Linked DNA regions of Homo sapiens. The protein of the gene in region 1 interacts with the protein of each later gene in a pairwise test. Each region holds a gene or a part of one and is shown in the gene's direction. Other genes may lie near its edges. The genes, in order: DCDC2, CYTH4 and TRMT11.

Evidence for each region.
Region 2: the proteins of DCDC2 (region 1) and CYTH4 interact in binary tests that used the Homo sapiens proteins (3 or more experiments, as listed by UniProt).
Region 3: the proteins of DCDC2 (region 1) and TRMT11 interact in binary tests that used the Homo sapiens proteins (3 or more experiments, as listed by UniProt).

Annotation. Positions count from the first base shown.
Region 1 is NC_000006.12:24,348,050-24,351,700, reverse strand, and holds part of DCDC2 (doublecortin domain-containing protein 2), read left to right. Parts: intron 1-3,651. UniProt on the Homo sapiens protein: Protein that plays a role in the inhibition of canonical Wnt signaling pathway. May be involved in neuronal migration during development of the cerebral neocortex. Involved in the control of ciliogenesis and ciliary length.
Region 2 is NC_000022.11:37,295,908-37,299,558, forward strand, and holds part of CYTH4 (cytohesin-4), read left to right. Parts: intron 1-91; coding exon 92-158; intron 159-1,656; coding exon 1,657-1,775; intron 1,776-3,318; coding exon 3,319-3,399; intron 3,400-3,651. UniProt on the Homo sapiens protein: Promotes guanine-nucleotide exchange on ARF1 and ARF5. Promotes the activation of ARF factors through replacement of GDP with GTP.
Region 3 is NC_000006.12:126,010,400-126,014,050, forward strand, and holds part of TRMT11 (tRNA (guanine(10)-N(2))-methyltransferase TRMT11), read left to right. Parts: exon of another isoform or gene 1-240; intron 241-525; exon of another isoform or gene 526-792; coding exon of another isoform or gene 793-853; coding exon 854-1,018; intron 1,019-2,371; coding exon 2,372-2,453; intron 2,454-2,570; coding exon 2,571-2,702; intron 2,703-3,651. UniProt on the Homo sapiens protein: Catalytic subunit of the TRMT11-TRM112 methyltransferase complex, that specifically mediates the S-adenosyl-L-methionine-dependent N(2)-methylation of guanosine nucleotide at position 10 (m2G10) in tRNAs.

The DNA of each region.
Region 1 (3,651 bases):
CCAACGTACAAGATCCTTATTTATGGATGCACACCTTACGTGTGAAAAACCTACCCCTTGTCTCCAAATGAAAGACTGCATCTCTTTCATCCTGCTTCCTACTGGTGACTCCCTCCCACTTACTCCTTTCCTCTTGCTGCCCTGCTGTGGCCTTTTATTTCTTCTCAGTCCTTACCCATAAACCCTTCTAAAGGAGATGGAAAGAGAGAAGTAGAAGAAATTGTGAAATGCAAAGGAGATGGGAAAAGGTGTTCAGAAACTGCTTGTCCATGCTCTTTCCCGCATCTTCCACTCACTCATGCCCAGCTTTCCCACTTGTTCGCTAGAGTCCTCTCTCCCACTCTGCCCTCCTGTCCTAAAGTTTCCTCCAGGTCTGGACAAGCAGTGTGTTCACTTCCCTCACTTCACATGTCCAGTCCGGAGATACCTTCCTCCCCAAAGTTCGCACCATGACCTTCACCCTCCGAAGTCTGCTTTAAGCAAAGGCAGCCCCTACTTTCATTGCCAGAAAGAAAGGTTTTTGGGTTCTTGGCATCTCAAAAGGGAACTATGAAAGCATTTTTCTTCTGGAAATATCACTTTGACTCTGAATTCTATGGTATTTTTACGGCTGTTTTAGGTAGAGCACGAGTGGAAAAGGGTTTTGCAGGCTGCCCTGAGAACCTAATTATACTGTGTGATTTTTAGTATGGGAAACTACCTTTCTCTTTCCCACAACTGATTTATAGTCAAACTTTTGGAGTTCAACAAGTTGATAAGTTGGAGGATGATCTATGCTCAAAATTTGAGAACAGACTTGGTAGAACACTGGCATTTCACAAAAATTATAGATCTTTAAAAATCTTAGGTGGGTATTTCCTTTCAACATTAATGTGTTGAGAAAAGATTGCACATCTTGTTAAGTGCTATTAAGGATGAGCATTCTTTGGAGTATGATGATATATAAAGGGAGATCAATAGAGAATTATTTTTGAAGTGGATTTAGAACATGAATACTTCATGAAATTGGAGGGTTAAGAGTTGTTTCAAGGGGGAGTTTCAGTGCCGTAGTAGCACAAAAAAATTCAAAAATGTGTCATTATGAGGGATGAGTAAAATAACTTACTCACCAAAATGGGGGGCATTTCCTTCAAATCTAAGGTAATTTTGAGTTTTCAGTGATGGGCCTGCATAATAAAAGCCACCACCCCAGTATACACAATTCAGTTTTTCTGGTTGCCTAAAACATACTAATTCTAATTATTCCGAGTACATTTTATACGGAAAGACCTTTGCATTTCAGTGGAGTCATGCAGAGTGTGTGGCACTGGGTCCTACCCACTGTGGCTGGGACACCCTTTCAGTGAGTGCTGGGAGTTATTCCTTCTCCTTTTCCAGAGCAGCTCACCCAAGACCATGGGTACGATTTGTTGCTTTTACGTAGTTAATAATTTAGACAAGATGGCACCTGCTTATTGACTTCAGGTCATGCTAACTAGAATGTGCGTGTCACCTTGACATTGGAAATGCTTTTGTGGTTTGTGTCACTGCTTGCTTGTTCCATGAGGCTCATCTTTGAAGAGATACTTAAGGACAGCCAATGCTATTCCTCTTCCTCTTTATGGCCTCATGATGGGTTTGGGGAAAGGCAGAACTGTAATGGACCTAACCCAAAAGAAGCATAGGGTCCTATTTGGTGAACACTTTGCACAGCAGGAAGTAATGGGGTGGAGGGGGGGAATAAAGAAACAGAAGAATAAAAGAAAGAGGAATAAGGTGACTCTGTGGTTGTTTGCACCCACCTCAGAGTCAGGGCACCATATGGGCTCAGAGCAGCCTATCCCTGACTCTCTACACCCAGGTCCTGCTTTTACTAATATCTAAATAAACAGATCTCCTGGATTGCCCTTGTACTCTTTTTGTGCTCCTGAGTCATTTTGCATAGCTATATTTTCATTTTTCCTCCCACTTTCCCTGTGTCAGTGGTGGTTTAATGAAGACAGTTTTCTTAGCTTCTGACCGTGGTAACTCATCTCCTTGTATTTATGACTTCCCAATCCTCTCTTTGCTTCCTCGTGTCCCACCTCTCAGTCCAGTTTCACATCTCATTATATCTTCTAAGTCCTAAGTTGATTTACCAGCTCCTTTCTTTCCTCTTTACCTTAAGCAGCCTGTGGGAGTCCTCTGTCCTCATGCAGTTGGAGACCTCTGATTCTGCATGTGTGATGCCTTTACCAGCACTTACTCTTGCCCCTACCCTTCTGCTTTACTGAATGTGATTTCTGCTTCCTCTCTTCTTGTTTTCCTACCTTGTCCTCTCTGCTTCCATGTTATTGAATGCCTATACAATGCAGTGGGCAGAGTAAGCAAAATGATTAAGACATGCATGACCTCTCACATCCAGGAATTTATAGTCTTGCTGAAAAGACAGATGAGCATCTCTAGTACTACATCATAAGTGATTCGATTTAGTAAATATAGTTTGCATTGAGCCATTTAGTTCAAGTGCTTCTGGCTTTATCATGTTGCAGCAAAGCCATTTGTGGACCCTTCAAATGGAAGCGTCCTTCTGCTTTGACCTGGCATTGTAGATCTCACTCTTCATTCCTGCACCTCATGTCTCATCCATGTAGTACATCCTTCAAATAATGACATTCTTTTTTTTCCATAACCATTCAAGGTGGAATTAATGACATTCTTAAATAGATATTTAGAGTACAAATCTGTTTTACTGTGTAAGGGGCTTTGGTACATGTTATATAGAGAGGGGAAGAGCAGGCAGCTTGACTTTGGAGCACTTAGATGGGCTGGGAACTGTGCTAGGCACTAGGCATAAAATGGATACTTCACTGCTCTTGCTCTTTGGGAGTTCAGCGTGTAGGAGAAGAGACAGAGAAGTAAACTAGCTATGATTATCTAGTGGCAGGTGGCTGTGCTAGAGGTGTGCTCAGAGGACTGAGGAAGTGCAGATTGGATTAGGGTTGTGGGTCAGCCAGTTTGAAATGGTTTAAAATATAATAGACCCTTTTGTTTTTTAGCCTGCTTCTCTTAGATCAAAGTTTTGAGAAAGTCTTTTTCTACAACTTGATTAAGAGGGTATTATTTAATAATTATATCTGTAAGAGTCAAAATCAGTCTCTAGCAGAAAGAGTGAAAATCAGCTTGCATGGAAAAGAGGAAAAGGTCGCTTTGCTATTAACCAGGCTTAGAGGATAGACACATTTAAAGCCAACTATAAAATTAACAGGAAACATTGTTTCTCCCATGGTGGCACAGGGCTGTAAAATGCCACAAGGATCCCTTCTTTGAGTGATGACTGCTTTCTTACTGCTGATGCTCTCAGACTTGCTTTGCTATTCCCATCTTTTACGGAGATCTTTATTGGATAAACTTCTCTTATCTCATACAACCCCTGGTTAATCCCTGATTCTTTTAATTTCACCTTAAAAACAGAAACCAATCTAGAACTGATCTCTGTTTCCCTTAGCTCTTCAGAATCCTTCAATGAGATTCCAAACCCTACAAACCTACAAACCCTCCTGCCTCTTTGTCACTGTCATTTTATGGATTCTTTAAGTGCTGGCACTTGCTACACCAAGTCCACACATCTGATTTTGTCAGACTGCAGGCTTGTTCCTGTTAGACTTCTGATTAGGCTTTAACATATACATC
Region 2 (3,651 bases), on another chromosome or scaffold:
ATGGGCTCCTGCTGAGGCAAGGGTCCTTGGGGAGTGGAGAGGGTAATTCAGGGTCCTGGGGCAGCCCAAGCTGACGTCCTCATGTCCACAGCCGGATGGCCCAGAAGGAGAAGGAGCTGTGTATTGGGCGCAAGAAGTTCAACATGGACCCCGCCAAGGTAGGTGGCTGTGGAGGGCCCGGGCCACAGGGTGTGGGGGCTGCATGGGAGCACCTGCCTGGTGTCCTCTCGCTCCCCTCGGCTGACACGACCCCTTTCCAGAGGAGGAAGCTGTGCCCAGCAGAGCTGAGCATCTTGTCCAGTGCCCCATGGCCAGCTGTGGCTGGGCGCCCTGTCTACTCCCAGGCATACACGCCTTGGGGCAGGAGGAGCCAGGAGCATGGAGGAGGCCACGGTGTCCATGCACTTGGCCTAGTCCCTTCCCCACTCTGGGCCTCCATTTCCTTCTCCATGAATGTGGCTTGGGACAGTGGAGCTCTTGGATCTGGGGCTTAGGCTCCAGAAGCATCTTCCAGCCCTGGGCTCAGGGAGGGCCAGTCCTGCGGTCCCACCACCCACCCCTCTGCTAGTAGGAGCAGCAGCTCAGGGCTGGGTTACCTCGATCCCCCACACCACTCCCAAGCCCCTGGCCTCACCCCACCAGGTGGCAGCTGGGCTTCCATCCTGAAAGGACGGAGACAGAAGGAAACCGCAGGCAGACACACCGAGGTGGGGTCAGGTGGCCAGCAGAGAGCACCAAGCTGGGGTCCCTGGAAATTTACCGCTCTGGCTTAGAAGGCTCCCTGTCCCCATCACAGGCCCAAAGTGTTATAACCATTCACCTCTCATGGCTACAGACCCTTGGACTCCTGCTCCTACCCACAGAGACCCCCGCAGGCTCACACTCTCACCCCACCCAGCACCCAGGGGTGTCCTCTGCATCCTCTGCCTGTCACTGGGCCCTCATGGCCTGTGCCCAACTTCCAGCAGTGGAACACAGAGGAATCTTCACGGAGAGCCAGAGACCAACCCCTCCAACTCCTAAAACTAGGATGACAAACTCTGAGTGCCTTGGTGGTGAGGAGAGGTGCTTGTGATATTGTCAAATCCGAAAAACAGATTTAAATGTGACAGGCATGGTCTGAGCCCATTTTCACATAGAAAGGGAAGGAAGGTCACCACGATGGAAGCTGTCTGCCTCCGAGCGGTAGGGCCCGGGCAATTTCCTCCCCTTTGGATTGAGCTGGTTTTTCTAACTTTTATACAATAGACATAGATTACTTGTGTGAAAGAATGAAACGCTATTTTTAAATAATATGAGTTTTAGGGGAACAAAAGAAATGGCTGAATCATTGAATCTCAGAATCACAAATTCCTAGAGTCACTGAAGCATATAATCAAAGAATGTCAGACTGAGGGGGACCCTGGGGAGTACCTGGCATGAACCTGGTTCATGGCAGGAAAGCTGACTTTCTTTGCATGCCTCCAGTGATGGGGAACTCATCACCTCCCAAAGGCAGCTCCTATGAAAGAGGGGTCAAAACTTCCCAGAACAGACTGTGCCAACACCAGAATGCCAGGCTCCAGGATTCTGGCCATGGAAGCTCCTTCCTCCCTTCCCCCTCCCAGGCCTGCTTCCATGCAGCAGCTGCTCACGGCTTCTGTGTACCCCCTCCAGGGTATCCAGTATTTCATTGAGCACAAGCTGCTGACCCCTGACGTCCAGGACATTGCACGGTTCCTGTATAAAGGCGAGGGCCTCAACAAGACAGCCATTGGTACCTACCTGGGGGAGAGGTAAGAACGAGTGGAGCCTTAGCGAGGCAGGAAATGAAGGTGTGCAGGTGTGTACAGGTGTGTGGATGTGCAGGTGAGAGGATGAATTATGTTAGCAAAGTCATCACTCCTAGTGCTTGAGGGGCTCACGGATCATCCCCTCCAGATTCTGAGTCAAAGCCTGACTGCCTTCATTCATTTAGTCATTTATTCAACAAATAAATGTTGCTCAGGGTCTACTGTGTTCCAGGCACCATCCTAAGCCCTGGGTGTACACCAGTGAATAAGACAGACAAAACTCTTGTCCTCAGGAAGTCCATGCTAGTGGGAGAGACAGGTCTCAATAGTTGTAAAATATGTTAGAGAATGATAAGCTCTGTGGAATACAAATCGAGCAGGGAAGGGAAGTCAGAAATGCTGGGGACCGGCCAGGCTCGGGGCTCATGCCTGTAATCCCAGCACTTTGGGAGGCCGAGGCAGGCAGATCGCGAGGTCAGGAGTTCCAGATCAGCCTAGCCAACGTGGTGAAACCCCGTCTCTACTAAAAATACAAAAATTAGCCGGATGTGGTGGCAGGTGCCTGTAGTCCCAGTTACTCAGGAGGCTGAAGCAGGGGAATCGCTTGAGCCTGGGAGTCGGAGGTTGTAGTGAGCCAAGATCACGCCATTGCACTCCAGCCTGGGCAACAGATTGAGAACGAGACTCCGTCTCAAAAAAAAAAAGAAAAGAAAAGAAAACAAAGAAAGAAAGACATGCTGGGGACCATAGGTTGGGGGCTGTGATTTAGAATAGCGTGGACAGGAAGGGTCTCATGGAGAAGGTGACATTTGACCAAAACGTAAAAGAGGTGAGGGCATGAGCAGTACAGACATCTGGGGGAGGAGCGGTCCAGGAGTAGCAAGTAAAAAGGCCCTGGGGTCAGAAACAGGCTCAAGAATCTAGACTGGACGGGAGGAGAGAGGAAGGATATTGTGGGCGAGGAGGTGGGGATCTGTGGGAGCGCTCTGGGCAAAGGACTGGTCTGAGGGGTGGGCGAGTGGATAGGGGTGAAGCTGGACCAGAGAGTCAACAGCCCTCTCCCCAGCTCCCAAGGACACCCCTCCCTCCCGCGGTGAGCAGGGGATGCAGACGGTGAGAAGGGCACCTTCCTGCTTCAGGAGCTGGGGAGAGGGAGGAGATGGGGGAGGTCAGCTTCTCTCCCTTGTACAGATGAGGAAGCTGGGGCTGGGAAGGTCAAGTGGCTTCCGCGAGGTCACCAGGTGGGAAGTTACAGGAAATGAGGAAGGCCTGGACTGAGGGCAAGGCCGCTCCAAAGCCAGGGCTCCCCTCCCAGGCCAGACCAGCGCTGGTGAGCCGTGAAGGTGTGTGTTCCTGCATGGGAGGACAAGGGTGTGCCCTCAGGGTGTGATATGGGTGGGACAGATGTGAACACACCAGATGGCAGCTGGACCCCAGAAGGACAGATGTCTCTGTCCTCTCCCTCCCCCACCTCAACCCCCTCCAGGAGGTGGGTGCCAGCAAGTATCCAAGTGTGTCCCACCCTCCCTTCCGCCTCCTCCCCCAGGGATCCCATCAACCTGCAGGTCCTCCAGGCCTTCGTGGACTGCCACGAGTTCGCCAACCTCAACCTCGTCCAGGCCCTCAGGTGAGTAGTCCTGGGGCAGGGTCCCGGCCCTCAAGGGTGGCACAGCCCCAGTGGCTGGGGGTGTCGCGATCCACATAGCTGACAGCACAAACAAAGGGTTGGGAGCAAAGAAGAGGAGGCAAGGAACAAGAATGACTTCATGATAGTACTGCCTCACAGAGCTGAGCTGGACCGCCTGGGAAAGGGCCTAGTTCCTTGCAAATAGCAAATACTGCCTTCTTAGTTAGAATTCTATCATGCCCATATTTAATC
Region 3 (3,651 bases), about 100 Mb from region 1:
TTCTCCGTCACACTGCATGTTTTTCAGAGTCATGTCGTTCTTCTTTTGATTTTATAAGAATAATTATAGAGCAAACATGTAACTGCCTCCTAAGTGAACAAAAAGAATGTTATTCAGCCTTATGGAGTCAGTATAAGATTATATGCTGATAACTCCAAAGTCTGTATATTCTGGCCTTCAACTACCTGCTGAATGTCCCCACTGCGTATCTTTTTCTGAAAGTTCTGCAGGTACCTCAAGGTACATCAAGATTGATATATCTTAAATGAATCTAATCTTTTTTCTTAAGCTTGTTTTTCTTCCTGGTTTCTCTGATATTAATCACTGGTGTCATCATCCTAAACTATCATGTCTCCTAAACAAGGAACTTACGAGCTTCTTTAGCCTTCCTTCCACTCCCACTTTAACTTTCATTAGCAATGTCTCCATTTTGCCTCCCTTCCTCATGGTCACAACTGCGGCATTTCCCAAGTTCGCTCTCTTCATTTCTGTTTCATTTATCTGATTCATACTATCTCTACACAGGACTGTTTACTGCTGGAAGAAAGGAACCATATTCTCTTCAACTCTATCTTACTACAAAAATCTTCGTACTTGAAAATATCGAATGAGTGTTTTAAGGCAGTTTTACTTGGAAGTTGACAGAACAAGATAAGTTAGACATCAGTACATTTTACTGTTATGTTGAAATTAAAATAACTATTTACTTGTATACATAAAATTAAGATTTTAAATGAAAGCAAATTTTGAATAAATGTAGGTTTCAGTGAGTTAAAACATTACTTTTCCTAAATGACAGAAAATAAGAATACTCTGTTTAATACTTTCTCTCTTCCTTTTTCTTTCCCTTCAGGAAAGGCTACTAGGAAAAACCAGAAGTGGAGAGGACCAGATGAAAACATTAGGGCCAATCTTCGTCAATATGGTTTAGAGAAGTATTACCTTGATGTCCTGGTTTCAGATGCATCTAAACCTTCCTGGAGGAAGGGCACATATTTTGATGCAATCATTACTGATCGTAAGTTTATTTTTATACAAAAGTAGGAGTAGGATTCGTTTTGTAAAATCATTTACATTTAAAGTACAAAATTTACCAACACATGCACAAAATGCCAACTTGTCAGTATTTCTCCCATCTACCCCCAGCTTCTTCATCTTGTAAGGAGAAAGTTATGAAGGTACTTAACTACCTTGTTAAGGGCTTACTGTTTTGTTTTTTTAAACAAATATATTGGCTTGCCATCCCCTGTTATATCCTTTTATATTAACTTGTCACCCGTTTTTCCCTTCAGCTTATTTTTTTGAGGCATATATTTAGTATTTGTTTTTGTATTGACTATAATTGGTTATTATACCAACTGGAGCTCACATGTCATTTGCAATTATGGTGTCAAATTTTGAACAGAGTTTCAGATATCACACATTTCTCTATGTGTAAGCATTTGTGTTTTTGTAGTGCCTGTTTTCACTGGCATCTCCTTTCTAGCATTACAAGAAATTTGGGGTTCTGTGGAACCACTGGGCCTGTGAACCTACTGAGCTTCAGGAATGTGCATGAAAATTTATTTTCCCATGCCTCATGAGGTCGTGAGTTTTTTAGGCAGCCTATCTAAGAATAGATCTGCCTTTTCTATAGTATTTGACAGTAAATCTGTAAAAAGTGGCAAAGTTCAGCCCTTCTATCTCAGCTCTCTTTAGTTCTTTACTAACTTAGATTTTGTCAAATGTAATGTAACAAAAGAAAAATTATCAAGGCCTTATGGTTTCAGTGTGAATATACTTTATGAAAATTTAGTTTTTTTTAAATTAACAGTTTGCTTTATTATTTGCTCTCCCACTCTGTGTTTACTTATATAAAATACATTTTTTTTTTCCGATCAACTTGAGAGTAAGTGGTATACATTGTGGCCTTTTACTCCTATACTTCAGTGTGTATTTACTAAGAATAAAGATAGTCTCTTAGCAAAAATACAGTTATCAAGTTCAGTAAATTGATAAAATACTTTCATCTACAGTTTGCCATTCAGTTTTGTCAACTGACTCAGTAATAGCTTTTATGGCATATATTCTCCCTCTAGGACAGGATCTACTCTAGAGTCAGGTATTGCATTTCGTAATGATATCTTTTAGGCCTCCTTTAATTTGTAACACTTCCACAGCTTTTCTCAATGACTTTTATGACATTGACATATTTTAAGAAGACAGTTGCTCCTCTCCCAAGTCTTTATGTTGTACATTTTCAGTTGGATTTGTGCATTGGTGATGTTGTGTTCTTCTCAGGGTGTCACATTTGAAGGCAGCATGGCTGTTTGCCCTTGATCCATGATTTGGTGACTTTTGACTATCTGTGTTACCTTTGTTTTCTGTCTAGCTCCATATGGTATCAGAGAATCTACAAGAAGAACAGGTTCACAGAAGGAGATACCAAAGGGGATAGAAAAATGGGAAAAATGGTAAGTGAAATTTAAATATGATGTGTTACTACCTTGAGAAGAGGCATGTGGCTTCCCCGTTAACTTAGCACTCTTAAAATTTTTCACTGATTTTGAAATTTTCTTTTCTTTGTGTAGTCCAGAAAGCCATGTTCCTGTTTCCTTGAGTTATCATCTGAGTGATATGTTTCTTGACCTGTTAAACTTCGCAGCTGAGACCCTCGTTTTAGGTGGAAGACTAGTCTATTGGTTACCGGTGTATACGCCAGAGTATGTAATCTTAATTTTATTTTTAATTTCATTTTTCTTACAATGTTTGCGTATCTAGTATAATTTTCTCTTTATCTCTTCTTGCATTTGGTGCATCTTTATATTTAATTTGTAATAGCCTTTGTTTGCCTTCAAATGTGTATAAAATAGTCTTTTTATTTATTTAGTTTTTTGAGACAAGGTCTTGCTCTGTCACCCAGGCTGGAGTGCAGTAGTGCAATCGTGACTCACTGCAGCGTTGACCTCCCAGGCTCAAGTGATCCTCCCACCTCAACCTCCTGAGTAGCTGGGACTACAGGCATGCGTCACCATGCTCAGCTATTTTTTATTTTTATTTTTTGTAGAGGTGGAGTCTCACTATGTTGCCCAGGTTGGTTTTAAACTTCTAGGCTCAAGCAGTCTACCTGCCTCAGCCTCCTGAAGTGTTGTGATTATAAGAGTGAGCCACTGTACTCAGCCTCCTTCTTTTCATCAACTGAATTGTTTTGACCTTGTTATTTTATATCAGGGGTTGGCAAACCACGGCCTATGGGCCAGATATGGTCCTCAGCCTGTGTTTATAAGGTTCTTGAGCTAGGACTAGTTTTTAGATTTTTGAAGTGTTGTTAAAAAATATCCACACAAAATAATGTGTGACAGAAACATACAGTATGTGACCCACAAAATCTAAAATATTTACTCTCTGGCCCTTTATAGAAAAAGTTTTGCCAGCCCTTATTGTACCCTACACTTAGCTTAGTACCTATGGATCACAGCTGTTTTATAGCTCTTTTGCCAGTCTATAGATGTAATTTTCAACAGCTTAGCTAAAGGATTCACGCTTCTGCTACCTTCTAATGCTAGCTTTAATATATATTGGCTATTATGATTATCTTAAGTACAATAAATCAAAAGCTAAGACCAAAATAAGAGCTGTGCATATATTTAAAGCCCTGATTATGTTCAGCAT